Linked DNA regions of Homo sapiens: region 2 is linked to region 1. A link means that fine-mapping ties the variant in region 1 to the expression of a gene that starts in the linked region. Tissue or cell type: whole blood. Region 1 holds a variant in brackets; the other region holds the start of a gene. All regions are shown on one strand. Distances are between the middles of the regions.

Region 1 (11,366 bases):
TAGATGTACATTTGCAACTGCAAGGATTTGCCTGTAGTTCCTGGTTATGCAGGTAGGGGGCTGGTTCTCCCCCAGCCATAAACACTGAGGTGCTAGAATTGGGCTGGAAACCCAGGGTCTCTCTTTTCAGCTTATAATTGACTGCCAGCTACTGATCATGACAGAGAGGAGCTGGTTCTTCTCCCATTCATGCAGCCTAAGAGCCCCAGAGCCCAAGGACCAACGCCCCACTCTAGGTGTCTGTTTTCCACTCTGTTAGATCACTGTGCACTGCCCCAGAACATGATGGATAGTGGGACCCCTTTCTGCTGTCCTGATGTCAGTATTGGCTTGTCATTCTCCTTATTTTGTCATTCTCCCAACAGTACACATGTTGAGAGTGCAGGAAACGTAATAGTGGACAGATCATTATAAAGTGAACACCTCTGTAACCCCTGAACAAGCCACAAAAAAGAATGCTCCAGGCTCCAGAAGTTTCCCCCTGCTTCTTCCCAGTCACATCACCTACTCTCCCTTCTACATGAAACCACAGCCTGGTTTTATGGTTATTACCTGATTGCGTCTTTTTGTGGTTTCACCACCATCTTGTGTATCCCTTGACATCGTGTTTTAGTTTTTCCTGGTTTTGAACTTTATAGGAATGGAATCACACAGTATGTATTATTTTATTGTCTGGATTCTTTGGCTCATTTTTAAAAAAAGTTTAACTCGTGTGTGTGTGTGTGTAGCTATAGTTTGTTCATTTTTATTTGCTGTACATTCATTTGCTGAATAAATACACCACAACTTATCTATCTATTGTGCTGTTGAGGGACATTTGGGTTGGTTTTGTCTATCACCAATAATGCTGCCCAAAACATTCTTGTATGTGTCTTAGTTTTCTAGTCTACTATTTAATATTATTGGAAACCAGGCCTCTGTTTTTATAATGATTGCTGTTATCATTGCCAAAGACTCCTCCTTTTAGTTATTGCTTCCTCAGCACTTTAGGATATTGCAAAAGAAAGCAGTCAGCTTGGCCCAAAGAAACCTGGAAAACATTGATGATTTCATTGTGGCCGCTTTGAAGGCAGGATTGTTTTTCTCTTGTTTACCATTAGATCCTCAGTACCTACCAGACATAGTTTGTTGCATGAATGAATTATGGAAGTGGGCTTTGTACCATGTCAAGCCAAGCTAAAGCAGTAAACCTTTCCTGAAGTTTCTATAGGTGAGACCTATATTTCCTTACTATAATATTCTCTCCTAATTAACCCACTGTCTTTATTATACCACATGCTCAGCAGAGTCACGATAAAGTGAGCCAGAGTGGGGAGTTTTTGATGCTTCTAATCTGAGTCCATATTGGCTTTTGGAATTTTTTCATTAATCATCCTAATAATGACTAGGAACATTCCAAGCTGTGGACTTGGGCTTTCTGTATGATACTTGAAATCCACACGGGCAGCTGGGCGCGGTGGCTCACGCCTGTAATCCCAGCACTTTGGGAGGCCGAGGTGGGCAGATCATGAGGTCAGGAGATCAAGACCATCCTGGCTAACACGGTGAAACCCCATCTCTACTAAAAATACAAAAAAATTAGCCAGGCATGGTGGCGGGCACCTGTATTCCCAGCTACTCGAGAGGCTGAGGCAGGAGAATGGTGTGAACCCGGCAGGCGGAGCTTGCAGTGAGCCGAGATCGCACCACTACACTCCAGCCTAGGCGGCAGAGCGAGACTCCATCTCAAAAAAAAAAAAAGAAAAGAAAAGAAATCCACATGGCCTTCCTCAAGGAGTATCAAAATCCTAAGGTACACACTTTCCTATACATATGATTAGGGAAAGCTGGTCATTTTTCATTATTCTCAAATTGTAAAAACTTTGAACTGGAAGAGAACCTCTAGAAGCTGTGCATTTAGATTTGGAAAAATGAAGGATGTGAGAGAAAACGTTTGTCATCATGATGGCTTTTAATTAGAGGAACTAATTGGGTGGAAGATGGACTTTTAGGTCTCAAAAACTAATTATTCATGCAGCGAAAGGAAGGGAACAAGGCCTAAATGAGGCACATGTACAAACTCTCTCTTCTTTTAACTGAGTATCTAGCATAGTCACCACAAGTCTAATTGGGCATTTCCTTTTAAAACTTCTCTTAATAGCTGCCCTGGTACCAGAGTGAGCTCCCCATTCAAAATATGCTTTTCAGCCTTTCTCAACAAGAATAGAATCTTTCTCTTGACTCCACACCAAAAGTTATTTTTCCTCCCTTTGAATCTCTATATCACTAGGTTCCAACCTCCCACATGACCTTCATCACTTTCCACCTTGTATTATATTTATTTATTTATACATTTATGTATATGTATATTTTATACACTTGATTCTAAGATTGTAGGGAGAAGAATGCTCCCAAATTTGTTTTGCAAATGTAAGAGTCTTGCATATAATAGATGCTCAGTCATAATTCATATGTATCAATATTACAGCTTGTGGTGAGCAAACAACACTAAAAGAGATAATCGTGGGGAAGATGCTGATGAGGCCAGGTGGGGTGAGCATTACTAAATATATTGATTCCCCATTTTGATTACTGAGAGACAAAGAAAGACATTTTCTCTCCTCCTTCTTCTTCTTCTTCTTTTTTTGAGACAGAGTCTTGCTCTGTCACCCAAGCTGGAGTGCAGTGGTGCCATCTTGGCTCCCTGCAACCTCCACCTCCCGGGTTCAAACGATTCTCTGGTCTCAGCTTCCCTAGTAGCTGGGATTGCAGGTGCGTGCCACTACGCCCAGCTAAGTTTTGTATTTTTAGTAGAGATGGGTTTCACCATGTTGGCCAGGCTGGTCTCAAATTCCTGGCCTTAAGTGATCCACCCGCCTTGGCCTCCCAAAGTGCTGAGATTACAGGCATGAGCCACCACGCCCGGCCAAGAAAAACATTCTCACACTGTCAAAGGCTCAAGTGAGTTATCCAAAGCAAAATAATTTATTTGAAGTTTTATATTTGTCTTTTACATATACACATACATATATGTAGGTACATATATATTTTTATTCTTTTATAAAGAAAAATTATTTATATGGTAACAATTGTGGAGTTTGGTTATAAAGACATGTTCTCCACCCAAGAGCATTTATTTTCCTTTGTTAGAAGTTTTAATGTAAAATCAGCCAAGATTCCTTTTGTTAAAGCCAACAAGTGTTTTTAGCACATCTTTCAGATGAATTAGTTTCCTGTTGTGTTTCACAGGCCAATCAAAGATGGGCAGGGATGGTCTCAAATTGACCCTTCTACCTACAGTGTTTCTGCTGTGTGCTTATAAAGATTGAACTTCTGTATTCTCATTCCACATCCATGAACACACACAACTCCAGCTGCTATTCAATAGATGAACTCTGATAAATGTAAGTTTTCTAGTACATTGATGGAATTTCTATAGCAGGATGTATTGAGCCCATTTTTTTATAAATTAGTTGACAATACAGTATTCTGTTTCACTGTACCCTTTGAAGGGAACATGAAAAGAGGGCAGTTCTACAGAAAAGCCCCCCACCCCAACCATTTCCTCAACCCTCTACACACTTATAAAGGGCATTGTCTTTGCCACTGCTGTTCATTCTCTGAGGCTTGGGTTCAAAGGCACCTCAGAAGTCTTACAGGAGAGAGGCAAAATGCAGGCCTACACTCTTTTGCTCCTTCAGCAGTGGACATGTATTAAATGTTCTCAGACCTCTTCTCCATCTGTTAAAGACCAACACAATCCCTAAATTGATGAGGGTAAGAGATTGGCAAATCTGCTCCATGTTACTGACTGCCTTATTCCTTCCCATTTTCCTCACCATGGCTTGGGATAAATTATCCAGCGTCCTAAGGGTTACTGTCAGGTGTCTCTGCACAGGCACTGTGCAAATATCAATTCATGCCCTCCCCCACCTTGATGACAGATTCATCTAAGACCATTTAAGCAATCCCTTAAATTGCTTGTGTTACGAAAGAAAGGGAACTTCAACATTGTTGGAAGGAATCTAAAATGGTACAGTCACTGTAGAAAATCATTTGGTAGTTTTTCTTCAAAAAGTTAAACACAGAATTAGCACAGGACCCAATGAATCCACTCCAATATAGACCCATGAGTACTGAAAATATGTTATCTTACAAGAATTAGCCAGGTGTGGTGGTGTGTGCCTGTAGACCCAGCTACTCAGGAGGCTGAGCTGGAAGGACTGCTTGAGCCCAGGAGGTCAAGGCTGCAGTGAATTGTGATTGTGCCACTGCACTCCAGCCTGGGCAACAGAACAAGGCCTGACTCAAAAAAAAAAAAAGAAAAGAAAAGAAAATATGTACATGAGTGTTCATAGTAGTATTATTAATAACAGCCAGAACAAAGTTCATCAACTGATGACTAGATAAACAAAATGTGGCCTATCCATATGATGAAATATTATTCAGCTATAAAAAGGAATGTTCTGTTGTTATATGCTGTATGCTCAGGGATGAAACATGGAAACATTATGCTAAATAAAAGAAGTCAAACACAAAAAGCCACATATTGTGTCATTCCATTTATATGAAATGTCCAGAATAGGCAAATCCTCAGAGACAGAAAGCAAATTAGTGGTTGCCAGGGGATAAGGGGAGCAGAGCTGGGACTGACTGCTATAGGTATGAGGTTTCCTTCTGTGGTGATAGAAATATTCTGGAATGAGAAGTGATCGTTGCATAATAGGGTGAATATACTACAAAACAATGGAATGTTGATATGGTTTTGTTGTGTCCCCACGCAAATCTCATCTTGAATTATAGCTCCCATAATTCCCACGTGTTGTGGGAGGGACTCGGTGGGAGATAATCGAATCATGGGGGCAGTTTTCCCCATACTGTTCTTGTGGTAGTGAATAAGTCTCACAAGATCTGATGGTTTTATAGGGGGTTTCCCCTTTTGCTTGGCTCTCACTCTGTCTTGCCTGCTGTCATGTAAGATGTGCCTTTCACCTTCCGCCATGTTTGTGAGGCCTCTCCAGCCACATGGAACTGTGAGTCCCTCAATCCTCTTCTTCTTTATAAATTACCCAGTCTAGGGTATGTCTTTATCAGCAGCATGAAAATGGACAAATACAATTGTACACTTTAAAATGGTACATTTTATGTTTTGTGAGTTGTATCTTAATTTTAAAAAAGACCATAACAATGCTTACAACCTACATGCTGTAGAGTAGATCATACTTACGTCATTATTTTCTGGTCATACTTAGGAAAGAGTAAAGACTGTCACAGAATAAATGAATGAATGGACGAATCAATTGATGAACTGATGAATAAGTAGAATGAAAGGGAGCCTGGGAAACAGAGGTCTTTTGTGACTAAACATGGGTGAGGAGACACTTCGTATAATTTTTTTCTTGGGCGAGTAGTAGAACACAGAGAGGTTGGAGGGAAACACTAGCAGGACTTGACTTTACAGGGAATTTGTTTTGGAAAGGATGTCCCCAAGCAAGGAGATTCTCTTCCCTTCCCAAAACACTGTATCCTGCCATAGCCTTCTTCCACTCTGAGTGGGGCACGTGCTGCCAAGATGAAAAGCAAATCTCCCTGTAGCAGCCAAAGAAAACAAACACAGAAAAAAAGCAAATGAAAACTGGGAGAGGAAGCAGGATTCTGCATCCTGGTTGATAACATCGTCAAAATCAAAGCCACAAAGACACACAGTCAGGGCCACTGATAGAGCTTAGGGGCCATCCAGGGCAGGGTTGACCAGAGGTGAGAAGGTCCCCGGACCCTCAGTGTCATCAGCCCAAGCCCCCATAATTTTGTAACTAATATTGATGGAATAACAGGGCCCTTCCCATATACAGGTTAAGACCCAACAGATGCCTCGGGTAATTTATTTACTTAACAAATACAAACTGAGATTGACTGTGCCTGAGATACACAGGGAGAGGCACAAGTCCCAGCCAAGGAAGGGCATCTTCTAGGTAGGAAGTTTCCTGGGACTGATCTCTCAACTTATTTCTTCTGGCCTGTCCCTTCCTCTCGCCACATATTCTTGGCACCCTGTCCTTCTCCAGGGCCTTTCCCCCTCCTCCTCCTCCCCTAAAAAGGAAAGTGTGAGGAAGCAGCCATGGGACCTCCCCTTTCTGGCTGGGTAGGCGCTCCTAGGTGAGACGAGGAACTCTGAGTGGCTCGGCTATTGCAGGAGCAAGTGCCTTCTCCTACTTCGGACATGGGATTGCTGTGAGGACCGAATAGCCTTCTGCTTCCGACAGAGTTTTATAGACTGCAAAGTATTATTCAAATGGCAGGGAAAATAGAAAAGTGTGGCATTGTTTCTCCCACACTTTTCTATGACTTCTGACATTTCAAATATAGTATTCCTCCTATTTCAAAATACTCTTAGTCCCGACTCTTCACTGAGTTGGGTAACAGGAGGTTGTTCCTTAGGACTTACTCACCAGAAAGGAAAGGAGGGTTTCCTTTCACTTCCGGTTAGAACCAG[C/G]TTCAAGCATTTCCTCCCCACCCTTCCGTCCAAAACCCTGATCACAGCGCCCCCTCGTGTAAATCCGGAGCAACTGCCCGGGAAATCCCCCGTCTAACCCGGGCCAAAGTCAAAAGCTGAAGGAGGGGGTCCGGTTGAACTCTGGGTGGGCGGGAACTGGGGCTCCTACAGGGCGGTGATGCCTACAGGGGACAGGCTCCAGTCAGGTCCGTTTGCTTCTCATTATGCTGAATATAGACCTCATATTGCCAGATATTTTGATTTTAAAAGACAAGCTAGACACTTCCCGATTAAAACAACTGTGTAAGCCAAATAAAACAAGCTATGGGCCAGGCTGTGGGGGGGCTGCAAACCGTCAGGAAGCTTTGATTTCTTGTGGAAAAGATGAAACATTGATGATAGTTAATCCCAACACATTGACAAGGAGCGATCCTGGTAACAGAAGATATCTTATATGATATATAAAAATCACAACTGTGAACATATTTGACAAGGAGAAAAAAAGAACAAACATTCTTAACATACTTGCTTCTGAGTTTTCCCATCTATATTTGCTGGCTATATACTGATTTTCTTAACTTCCTATATTAACCAGAATAAAACCAGAAAGTTTCAGTAAAAATTATGGGGAAAAAAACTCAAAATAGAAAAAGAAATTCCCATTAATTTTTTTCCCCACTATTTGGAGATAAAATCCATTTTCCTAAAGGTACATATTCACCAACTTCCAGAATGCCAATGCCCATGAAGGGTTTTTTGAGCTTTCTGGGGTAGAAATTCATAGTTCTTAAGACAACAGGCAAAGCCTGCACAATTTGTTCTCATCCCGACTGTTAGCCTCACCTCCTGTCATTCCCTTTGCTGGTCCGATCATCATACGAAACTATTTTCCTCCAAAAACATTTCTTTTTTTTTTTGGAAAATTGTATTTCTCGTTGATTAATTGCTTTTACTCTCTTTTCCATTTTTGAAGCTCCTATGCATGCGTTCTTCGTATCCCAGTTTACATGTTACCTCCCACTAACCTTCAAGCAGAATAAGCTGCCCAGCCCACAACATGCACTTTCAAAGCTCTAAGCCCATATCTTTAGGAAAACAATTACTATTTTTCTTATAATTATTTGTTTACACATGTTTTGATATTGGGAATCTACCTAAAGCTGTGTTGTGTCACCGATGAGCCATAAAACTTTAAAAATATCTAGTAGATTGTAGGCTGATAGGGAATATTTGCTGTTTCGCTCTCCCAGAGCCTAGTACACCACCAGAATCATTGCATTGGATTTTTAAATAATTTTATTTTTGAATTTTTTGAACAAGTAATACTTTTCACAGTTCAAAATTCAAAAAGCTTAAGTATACAAATGAAAACTTTCCATTATATTCATGTTTCCAGCCACCCAGTTTCTCTTCTTATTGGTACATGATGTTACTCACTTATGTGGAATGAAGTCCACATTCCTCTGCGTGCAGTATAATTTTTTCTACCATCTGTGCTTGTTTACCTTCCTAGTACACTCCTCTCTCCTGGCCTTTGCTCTCTACTTTCCAGCCAGGATTGAAGTGGCTATTTCCCGATATGCTACCTTAGCGATTTACTGGCTTCTCAAGATCAGACACTCTATCTTCCTCTATCATTATTAAAGACTACATACTAGCATCTAGCGTATAGCAGGGCGTGAATGAAAGTTGCTCACGCTTGGACAACAACTGACCCTTGTGCTTGTTCTCCTGGAGCCCTTTTGAGCTCTTAGCCGCCTCAGATGTTGTTCTGGGACACACGTTTGGCCGTTGAGGCATTACTTCCCTGGGTATCCTGATGACAACCCCCAAACCTAACCTAATCTGAATGTGTGTCTTCTCCTTGCAATCTAAAGAGGTGCCCGACTAATACACAAGTAACTCTCCCTGAGCTGAGCTGGTTTGTTCTCCCAGGTCAAATCCTCACAGGGAGGAAGAGAAACTTGTGGGCATGCAGAGATGTTAGTCACTATGAATGGATAAAACGGCACAGGGATACATATTATACATGTGTATAATATGTATAAATGTTTATATTTATATAATATGTAAGATATAATTTATAGTATGTATTATATGTAAATATGTATATATGTAAATATATACTATAAATTATGTATATTCTAAATATATATTTATAATTAATAATTAATTATACTATATAACTATGTACTTATATAATATATTTCTATTAAATAAATGTAAATATATAATATATATTTATATTAAATAAATAGAAATATATTACATATAAATCTATATGTATATAAGTGTGTGTATATATATTTTTTGTTACAAGGCCCTAAAGGCCCTAAACAAGGCTACATTGATTTTTAAAAATTAACATTGTACTTACTAATGTTTCAAGTTAAAAAATATTCTTTAACTTTGAAGATCACTATACATAGCTTATCATTTCATTCTCCCCCTTCCTTCCTTCCTTTCTTGTTTTCAATCACTTTTTTAAGGGGACTTTTGTTTTTGACACAGTCTTGCTTTGTCACCCAGGCTGGAGTGCAGTGGCATGATTATAGCTCACTAAAGCCTCAAACTCCTGTTTTTATTTTAATTTTTAATTTTTGTGGGTACATAGTAGGTGTATGTTTTTATGGGATACAAGAGATATTTTGATACAGGCATGCAATGCATAATAATCACATCAGGGGCTGGGCGTAGTGGCTCATGCCTGTAATCCCAGCACTTTGGGAGGCCGAGGCAGGTGGATCACAAGGTCAATAGATTGAGACCATCCTGGCCAACATGGTGAAACCCCATCTCTACTTAATATACAAAAATTAGCTGGGCATGGTGGCGCGTGCCTGTAGTACCGCTACTCAGGAGGCTGAGGCGGGAGAATCGCTTGAACCCGGGAGGCGGAGGTTGCAGTGAGCCGAGATCGCGCCACTACACTCCAGCCTGGTGACAGAGCGAGGCTCCGTCTCAAGAAAACAGAAAAAAAAAAAAGCCGGGCGCGGTGGCTCATGCCTCTAATCCCAGCACTTTGGGAGGCCGAGACGGCGGATCACTTGGGGTCAGGAGTTCGGAGCAGTCTGGCCAACCTGGTGAAACCCTGCCTCTTCTAAAAACACAAAAATTAGCCAGGCGTGGTGGCGGGCGCCTGTAGTCCCAGCTACTTGGGAGGCTGAGGTGGGAGAATTGCTTCAATCCGGGAGGTGGAGGTTGCAGTGAGCCGAGATCGCTCCATTGAACTGCAGCCTGGGAAACAGAGGGAGACTCCGTCTCAAAATAAATAAATAAATAAATAAATAAATAAATAAATAAATAAATAAATAAAATAAAAAATAAAAAATAAAAAATTTACATCAGGGTAAATGGGGTATCCATCACATCAAGCATTTATCCTTTGTGTTACAAAAAATCCAATTACACTCTTTTGAAGTGTGCAATTAAATTAGTATTGATTATAGTCACCCAGTTGTGCTATCAAATAGTTGACCTTATTCATTCTTTCTATTTTTTGTACCCATTAACCATCCCCACTACCCAAACTCCCAACTCTTCCCAGCCTCCGATAACCATATTTCTACTCTCTATCTCTATGAGTTCAATTGTTTTGATTTTTAGATCTCAGAAATAAATGAGAACCTGTGAAGTTTGTATTATTGTGCCTGACTTATTTCACTTAATGCAATGACCTCCGGTACTGACTATGTTGTTGCAAATGACAGGATCTCATTCTTTTCTATGGCTGAATACTCCATTGTGTATATGTGCCTCATTTTCTTTATCCATTAATCTGTTGATGGACATGTAGTAGGTTTCTTTCAAATCTTGGTTATTGTGAATAGTGCTGCAATAAACATGAGAGTGTAGATATCTCTTTCATATACTGATTTCCTTTCTTTTGAGTATATACCCAGCAATGAGATTGCTGGATCTTATGGTTGCTCTATTTTTAGTTTTTTGAAGAACCTCCAAACTGTTCTCCATTGTGGCTGTACTAATTTATATTCCCACCAACAGTGTGCCAGGGTTCCCTTTTCTCTACATCCTTACCAGAATTTGTTACCGCCTGTCTTTTGGATAAAAGCCATCTTAACTGAGCTGAGGTGATATCTTATTATAGTATTGATTTGCATGTCTCTGATGATCAGTGATGTCGAGTACCTTTTCATATGCCTGTTTGCCATTTGCATGTCTTCTTTTGAGAAATGTCTATTCAGATTTTTTACCCATTTTAAAATCAGATTAGATTTGTTCCTATAGAGTTGTTTGAGCTCCTTATGCATTCTTGTTATTAATCCCTTGTCAGACAAGTAGTTTGCAAATGCTTTCTCCCATTTTGTGGGTTATCTCTTCACTTTGTTGATTGTTTCCTTTGCTGTCCAGAAGCTTTTTAACTGGATGTGATCCCATTTGTCCATTTTTGCTTTGGTTGCCTATGCTTGTGGGGTGTTACTCAAGAAATCTTTGCCCAGTCCAATGTCCTGGATAGTTTCCCCAAAGTTTTCTTTTAGTCGTTTCATAGTTTGAGGTCTTAGATTGAAGTCTTTAATCCATTTTGATTTGATTTTTGTATATGGTGAGAGGTAGGGGTCTAGCTTTTTCTTCTGCATATGGATATCCAGTTTTCCCAGTACCACTTATTGAAGAGACTGTTCTTTCCCCAGTGTATATTCTTGGTGCCTTTGTGAAAATAAGCTCACTGTAGATATATAAATTTATTGGTGGGTTCTCTATTCTGTTCTATTAGTCTATGTGTCCATTTCTATGCCAGTACCGTGCTGTATTGGTTACCATAGCTCTGTAGTATAATTTGAGATGAGGTAAAGTGATTCCTTCAGTTTTATTTTTTTGCTTAGGATAGCTTTGGGTATTCTGGGTCTTTTGTGGGTCCATATAAATTTTAGGA
Region 2 (8,597 bases), 41 kb before region 1:
AGGCTGAGGCAGGAGTATCACTTGAACCTGGGAGGCGGAGATTGCCGTGAGCCAAGATCGCACCATTGCACTCCAGCCTGGGCAACAAGAGTGAAACTCTGTCTCAAACAAACAAACAAACAAAAAACCCTACAAGACTACCTAAGTTTTCACCGAGGAGCAAGAGACTCATTCTCTGAACAGAATAACTTGTAGAGAGACAAGGGAATGCAACATAAAGACAGTTTCTGATTACATCTCCTTAAATTCTGCTTGTTCACTGGTTATAGAGACTTAATCTGGAGATCAATTTTTAATTGTTCTAGTGTTTTGCCTTTAAAGGCAAACTAAATGTTGTTGTGATATTTGAACAGTATTTTGTACTGACAAAAACACATTTTAGGCCCATGGATGTTCTACCTTCGTCTCTATTTGTATTAGTCCGTTCTTGCACTGCTATAAAGAAATACCTGAGACTCAGTAATTTATAAAGAAAAGAGGGTTAATTTGCTCACAGTTCTGCTGGCTATACAGGAAGCATGATGGCTTCTGCTTCTGGGGAGGCCTCAGGAAACTTACAATCATGGCAGAAAGTAAAGGGGAAACACGCAAACATGGCCAAAGAAGGAAGATGAGAGAGAGAAGGGGGAGGTGCACACCACCCACTTTTAAACGACCAGATCTCGCGATAACTCACTCACTATTACTAGGATAGCACTGAGGGGATGGTGCTAAGTCATTCATGAAGGGCCACCCTCATGATCCAATCACCTCCCACCAGGCCCCACCTCCAACAGTGGGGATTACAATTCAACATGAAATTTGGTGGGGACATAGAACCAAACTATATCACCATTTGATAAGCAGCCTAGGGTTCTTTGAGGTCGGTTTTGTACAAAAAAAAAAGGGACTACAAGGGTCTCTGTTTGTTTATAAAGTAATAGTTGCTTTAGCAAAATTACAAATCTACAAATCTACTTTCTCTTAACCTTTTAAATTCAAATTACATACTGTTTTAAACTATTTACTCACCCGATAAAATTTTACAATTACTGTAAGGAGGCACTTTTACTGTTTAGTTAATTCTCCTAAACATTTCAAGCAACTTTTACAAATTTAATATTTGACTTTCTTTTCAAGTACTTCAATTCTATAACAAAACTCTAAGTAATTCTTATAAATATAGTAAGTTAAATTCATTTTCATACCCATTTCACCTGAAATTGAATTGTACATAAATTTTATATACTATTTTACATATAAAGACTCTATGTTTTTAAGATTAAATATAAGTCATTACTTATTACCTTATTACATAAGTTAAATAAAAGCGTAAATCAATTAGCTGATTACTTTTTTTTTTTTTTTTGAGACAGAGTCTCACTCTGTTGCCCAGGCTGGAGTGCCGTGGCACGATCTCCGCTCACTGCAACCTCTGCCTCTTGGGTTTAAGCGATTCTCCTCCTCAGCCTGCCGAATAGCTGAGACTACAGGAGCACGCCACCATGCCTGGCTAATTTTTGTATTTTTAGTAGAGACAGGGTTTCACTATATTGGCCAGGCTGGTCTCGAACTCCTGACCTCAGGTGATCCACCGCCTTGGTCTCCCAAAGTGTTGGGATTACAGGTGTGAGTCACCGCACCGAGCCACACATTTTCACTTTTTTAGAAATGGGGCCTACGTTGCTCAGAACTCCTAGCCTCAAGGGATCCTCCCACCACAGCCTGTGGAGTTGCTGGGATTACAGGTGAAAGTCACCATGCTGGCTCACATTTTAAGTTGGAATCACAAAACTAATTTCTTTTGCATCCTAGTGAACTAAATTGTCGTAAACATTGTATGTGCTTATACCAACATATACACGTTATTCTTAAATTTAATCACAAACTTTAATGTTAAAATATCAGTGTATCTAACAATCTATGTTATTTTATACCTAAGTATTTTTTTGAGATGGGATCTCACTCTGTCGACCCCTTTGGAGCGCAGTGGCACAATCATAGCTCACTGCAATCTCCACCTTCCAGGATCAAGCGATCTCCCTACCTCACTGGGACTACAGGTAAACTTTTGTATTTGTTTTTCTATTTCTAGAGATGAGGTCTCCCTGTGTTGCCCAGGCTAGTCTCAAACTCCCAGGCCCAAGCGATCCTCCTGAATAGCTGGGATCACAGGTGTGCGCCCCTACGCCTGGCTAATTTTTTTTTTTTTTTCTAGAGATGGAGGTCTCACTATGTTGCCCAGGCTGTTCCCCAACTCCTGGGCTGAAGCTATCCTCCCGGCCTCTCAAAGTGCTGGGATTACAGGCGTGAGCCACTGCTTTCGGCCCTTAATTCTACATTAGCCAGAATTCAAAGGCATTTACCCACTTAAGAAAATAGGGCACTCTCAGCTTGTTGAGATTCACAGTACACTGATAATGCTTATCTCACAGAGAGATATTCCTGAAAATCATGATTTTAAAGACTGCGCCATATGCTGGCATGTCTGCACCAGAATTTCCTTTGCGCCTCCCTGTTGGTTTGCTCCACTTTTTCACTGAGTCAGACCGTTGAACACCGTGGACACACTGTCTTGCGTTTCCGAATATTTCCTAGAATACGGACGTTTCCTAAGACTCACGATAAAGATTTTCTGATCGTCTCTCCAAAACCTTGCCACCAATTTGCACTCCCACGAATCCTGTTACCGTGACTATCTCGCCATGCCCTCCCTAGCACTGAGCGTGATCTCTAGTATCATTTTCCATCGTTGCTAATTTGAACATGAGCAGATGGAGTCCTATTATTTGGGGTCATTAATTTCGTAGCAAGTGCAGTTGAAGGTGTTTTGCATGTTCATTGTGCAGTGCGCGCCGTAGTCTGCACAGTTTGGCCGGCAGGTGGGATGAAGGGCGGGGCTGGCGGAGCGCGCCCGCCGCCTGGTAGGCCAGTTCGGAGCGGAGCCAACGCTATCCCGGGCCCCACGGCCAGGGGGCGCTGCGGCCCCCCCAATCCCCCGCCCCGTCCGGGCTGGGGCGGAGGAGCGGGCGGGGACCAAAGGTTGGTGTCTTTGCGCTCGGACCTTCGCCAGAGGGGCCGGGACATCATGACGGTGGGAGCCAGGCTCCGAAGCAAGGCGGAGAGCAGCCTCCTGCGCCGCGGGCCCCGAGGGCGAGGGCGAACCGAGGGGGACGAGGAGGCGGCCGCCATCCTGGAGCACCTGGAGTACGCGGACGAGGCGGAGGCGGCGGCCGAGAGCGGGACGAGCGCGGCGGACGAGCGGGGCCCGGGGACCCGGGGCGCGCGGAGGGTGCACTTCGCCCTCCTGCCCGAGCGCTACGAGCCACTGGAGGAGCCGGCGCCGAGCGAGCAGCCCAGGAAGAGGTACCGGAGGAAGCTGAAGAAGTACGGCAAGGTAGGGGCCCTGCGCCACCACTGCCCGGGGGGCGCGGGTGTGGTGTCCCGCGGGGGAGCGGGAGCCGGGTCCTTACCATCGACTCACCCAGTTTCTCCGGGCTGCACCTGCGACCCCTCCGCCCCCGCTCCCATTCCCTCGCCGGAGGGAAGCCGCGAGTTGCGAGTCGTGATAGAAACTTAAATCGGGGGTTGCGCTGGGTGGTCCCTGCTGTGCCTGCTATTGCGCTCCTGGCTTCTTAAGAACATTCTCAAGGGGCTCCTACCGCGGTGGTTTTTATGTAAGATCAGGAATCAGTTTCCTGATTACAGATGGGAATACTGAAGCGTTAGCGCGGCAGGTGACTTGGAGAAGGTGGCCCAGTTGGAAAGAAAGAAATTGCAACCCAGTGTATTTGTTTTCCAGTAACATCCCCTCCAGGATATCCCACTAGTTGAGAAATGTTTGGGTTACTCTCCCAAATATTCCCAAGGTTATTTCCCGAGCCTGGGAGCGCAACAAATACATAAATAGGCGCTCGTTGAATTTTTCTCGTCTAGCCAACTATCAGTGTACTCTGGGGCCTTCAAAACATTCTGCCGTTTGTCTCGGGGAGATGGGGTTAGGAAGAATGAATATGGGAGAAAATGACAGTTTCCTTCGCGGAAATCAAAGCGCAGATGCAGTTCCCAGGTGTCTCTGCATGGAAACAGTCGAAGCTGCTGCCGGAAGCTCTGCTGGCCTGGACAAGGCCACCCAGAATAAAGTCACAGAAGTTACTGTGTCCTGGCCAAAGGCCACGGGCCCCATCTGATTTATTGTCTATTTATCTGTGTTGCCCAATGCCGTCTTACACCTGAAGCCATTCAGTCTCCATGCCTGGGAGCTTAGGTTTATCATCCTCTTTAAAGGTATGTCAGCAGCTTCTGGAGCAGAATACAGGCAGGGGTAAAACTATAAAGTTGGGTCTTTCAGGCTTAGAGCCCTGCTAGGACGATTCATCTCTGCTTTGGGTCCCAGTTGAGCACAAAGAAGCCATCATGTCCCTCTCCATTGGTGAACTGATACTGCAGAAACCTCAGCTCAAGGACTAGGACTTGAAGATATTTTGGGGGCACTCATTATGCGTCAGGCATTGTGCTGAGCAGTAGAGATGCGAAAATGAATACAGTGCAGCCCTGCCCTAGAGAAGGGCACAGCCTCCCAGGGAGACACTGACATAGCTGGCTCCCCCCGCCCCCGGGGGGGCTTCAGGGCACAGAGCTCAGGCAGTTCACTCCTCAGCGGTGAGCTTGTAAACTCAGGGAAGTTTTCAAATCACGGTGACATGAAAACTGGGCACAGAAGGATGAGTTAAGATTTCACCAGATAACAGTGAAGTGGTATGAAGTAGGCACACTTCATCCCCACTAGAACGGCTACTCCAAAAAATGTCCAAACAAACCGAATAACAAATGTTGGCGAGAATGTAGAGAAATTGGAACCATTGTACATTGCTGGTGGGAATGTAAAATGGGACAGCTGCTGTGGAAAACAATTTGGGAGTTCCTTAAAAAGTTCAGTGTAGACTTATTCTGTGATCTAGCAGTTCCACTCCTAGGGATGTAACCAAAGAATTGAAAACAGGTACTCAAATCAATGTTTATATACACATTTTAATGGAATTATTATTTACAATAGTCAAAAGGTGGAAACAACCCAAATGTCCCTAAATGGATGAATGCATAAACAAGTGTGTTATATACATACAATGGAATAGTATTCAGCCATAAAAGGAAGGAAATGTACTAATCCATGCTACAATATGATGAACCTCTAAAAATATTATGCTAAGTGAAGTAAACAAGACCCGCAAGATCACATATTGTGCGTATGATTCCATTTGTATGGAATGCTTAGGATAGGTCAACCCATGGAGATGGAACACAGATTGGTGGTTGCCAGGGACTGCGGGAAAGAGGAATGGAGCCCATCTGCTTAATGGGTAATGTGTTTTTTCCTGGGGATGATGAAAATGTTTTGGAACTAGATAGAAGTGGTGGTTGCACAACAATGTAAATGTACTAAATGCCACCGGGCTGTACGCACTTTAAAATGGTGAATTTTATGTTATGTGAATTTTGCCTTAACTAAAACAAACAAAAAAAACAAGATTTCAGTGGATAGAGAAGTGGTGTCATCTCAGGTAGAGGGGCCATCACAAGCCCAGCTGTGGGCATGAAAGCTCTAGAGTGTTGCACGCTAGTTCAATGGACCCAGGAGGCCAGGTGAGAGGATGTCGTCAGGTTAGGGTTGGATCTCTCCTTTCTGCCCTTCAAAAGTGACTTCAGCTTCTACTTTCTTGGAGCCACCTGAGAGGGTCACCAGGCTCAAACATGGAGATATAAAGCAGGTGACCCCTCTTTGTTCCCCGAGACCCCAGCTCCCCTCTGAGAGAGTAGTTGGGTAGAAAGCTCTACTCAGATCAAAGAATTCCAAATGCACTCTCTTAAATGACACTGAAATAGTGGTTGAGAGATATTTTATGTTTCTTTGCATTTCATTTCTCAAATCTGTGTTTTTAACAGTGTTCCAGTTAATGAACTATTTTAGTAGATTTTTTTTCCCTAAATTACAAAGTGACAAGTAGCTTTTAAAGTATAACAGGCTGAGCAAAATGGATGTACAAATACCAAAAATGTCACGTTTAATGCAGGCGATTGTCATTCTGATCTTGTTTATAATGGATCACTCTTGATTGTTAAGCTTGTTCCCAGAGAATATGTTTTTCTTTTGTTGTTTCAAACATGTAAGTAAAATTCCCCCAGTGATTCTTATCACACATTTAAAGAACTGTATCTCTTAGCAACATCACATACCCACACATGCGCATGCCCCAGCCCAGTGTCTCTTTGAGACATCAACAGGGTAATGTCCAGGAAAGCAGTGTCTAGAGAAGACACAGACATTACTTGGTTCTTGCAAAGCTCCTCATTTAGCGGGAGAGGTACCAAAGGAAACACTCAGCCTCTTTCTACATGCTCAGGATACAGTAATGAGCACAACAGAGTCCCTGCCCTCCTTCTGTTACTGTGAGGGACCCTGTAATTTAAACTATTGAAAGCTCAGCTGGGTGTGGTGGCTCACACATGTAATCCCAGCACTTTGGGAGGCTGAGGCGGGTGGATCACCTGAGGTCAGGAGCTGGAAACCAGACTGACGAACATGGTGAACCCTGTCTCTACTAAAAATACAAAAAGATTAGCCTGGCGCGGTGGTGCATGCCTATAATCCCAGCTACTTGGGAGGCTGCAGCAGGAGAATCGCTTGAACCTGGGAGGTGGAGGTTGCAGTGAGCTGAGATCGCGCCATTGCACTCCAGACTGGGCAACAAGAGCAAAACGCGGTCTCAAAAAAAAAAAAAAAAAAAAAAGCTCAAGTAAGCCAGAAGTCATAGGAAATTATAGTCTTAAGAAACTTTCCCAAACAGACAACAAAAATATTGGGTTTATCTATCACCACCACAAACCTAAATTGCTATGTAATCAAAAGAAGCAGATGTTATTTAGCAGTAATAATAGCTGACATTGGGGGGCACTTATACTGCCTGCAGTTTGTGCCAGGCCCTGTTCTCAGTGCTTTGCTTACATGATCTCATTTACTCCTCTTAACAACCCAATGAGGTGGTTACTAAATATTCCCATTGTATAGGTGAGGAAACCGAGGCCATGGGAAATTAAGTAAGTGATAGAGTTGGAATTCAAGCCCAGGGCATGAGTGGTTAACTAGAAGCTTACATATTGCCTTTATTTAAAAAGGGAAACATAGTATGGGGGTTAAGGTCATAGGCCCTGAAGTGAGATTTCTTTGGGATTGAACTTCAGCTCTGCCCCTAACCAGATATATACATGTGGACAGATGTAATCTCTCTGTGCTTTGAATGATTGAAGTCTGATAGACAAAGGCCACCAGGGACATGCCAGTAGCCAATCCACGTTAGGTTTATGTGCTTAGGGCTACAAGGGAGAGTGCATGCCAGAGGAATTGTGGGGTCTTCAAAAAGTGGAGATCTCAAGTAACGAATTGAATATTTGAGTCTGAACTAAAGAGTTCTTCAAATCTAGGAGATACTTGTAGTCATTAGAAATGGATGAGACCATCTAAGGAGAGACTGTAGGGAAAGAAAGAGAGAAGGAAAGACCCAGGACTGAGTATTGAACAACACCAACATTTTAAAGTCTGGTAGAAGGGATAATTTAGCAAAGAAAGCTGAGGAGGAGCTCCCTATTTAGGTAGGGGAGAACTAAGAATATGGAGTCAAAGACGCCACATGATTATTTCATAAAGTATGTCAAAAGCTGCTGAGAGGTCAGGGAGAGAAAGACAGAAAAGCGTCCACTGGGTCAGGCAGCATGGGGGTTGTAGATGGCCATGACCAGACAGTCCCTCATGGGTTGGGGTAGGAGCCGGAGTCAGAGGGAATAAGAAGCGCAGACATGGAGGCAGTATATGTGGTTGGCTCTTTTGGCTGGCTTGGCACGATGGAGGGCAGAGACTGGGGCAGGATATGGAGTCACGGTGATACCCGAGCATGTATGTAAGCTAATGGGATCCAATGGAGAGGAAGCGAATGATGGAGGTGGTGAAGGGAAAGCCAAGATCAAGGTGGGAGAAGGCACTGACACCAAGTATCAAGGGAATGGCTTGGGGGAAGAAGACCACTTTCTCCACCGTAACACAGGCAATGCGGGAGAAGCCAGGGGCAGCCACAGGCAGGGCTGTTGAGAGTGGTGGAAGGTGAACGTGTTCCCTGACGATGTCTGGGTTTTTTTTTTTTTTTTTTTTTTCTGTGAAAGGTGAAGTGGGATCATCTCATGAAGGTATGGAGACTTGGGTGTGTTCGTGTGTGTTGCAAGTGGGGAGGCTTAAGAAGGGAAAAGGTATGAGGCAGTACCCGGGGGAGAGAGAAATTCATCCTACTGGACAGATGTGGAGGTTTGTCAGGTGGTGTTGGAAGTCAAGGTGAGATATGTGATTGTGATCAGGAATTTTAAGTTAAACCAGTCTGAGTGGTTATGGTAATATGGAAAAGTCAAAGGACTGAGAGACAAGGTATGTGGCCTAAGGCACAGGTTATCTGCATGGACATTGATATCACCAAGAGTGATGACAGAAGTTGAGGTACGGAGGGGAAGACCATGGGCAGCCGTGCAATAAATGTTTGGTGGTGGTGGTGGTAATTTTTCTGTTGCAATCACATTTG

Evidence for each region. PIP is the estimated chance that this variant, and not a neighbour inherited with it, causes the effect.
Region 2: C1orf115 starts here. The variant in region 1 is fine-mapped to the expression of C1orf115 in whole blood (TOPMed, PIP above 0.99). The same link has a PIP of 0.9 or more in lung and monocytes.

What each region holds. Positions count from the first base shown.
Region 1 is chr1:220,726,733-220,738,098 of GRCh38, forward strand. No RefSeq gene overlaps it. Among named protein-coding and RNA genes, the nearest start is that of MTARC2, 16 kb to the right of the region's middle. The variant C/G (reference allele first, on the strand shown) is at 6,473.
Region 2 is chr1:220,687,336-220,695,932 of GRCh38, forward strand. C1orf115 (chromosome 1 open reading frame 115) reads left to right here and starts at 3,028. Exons shown (of 2, transcript NM_024709.5): 1 at 3,028-3,376. The coding sequence starts at 3,068. RefSeq lists a silencer at 2,859-3,098.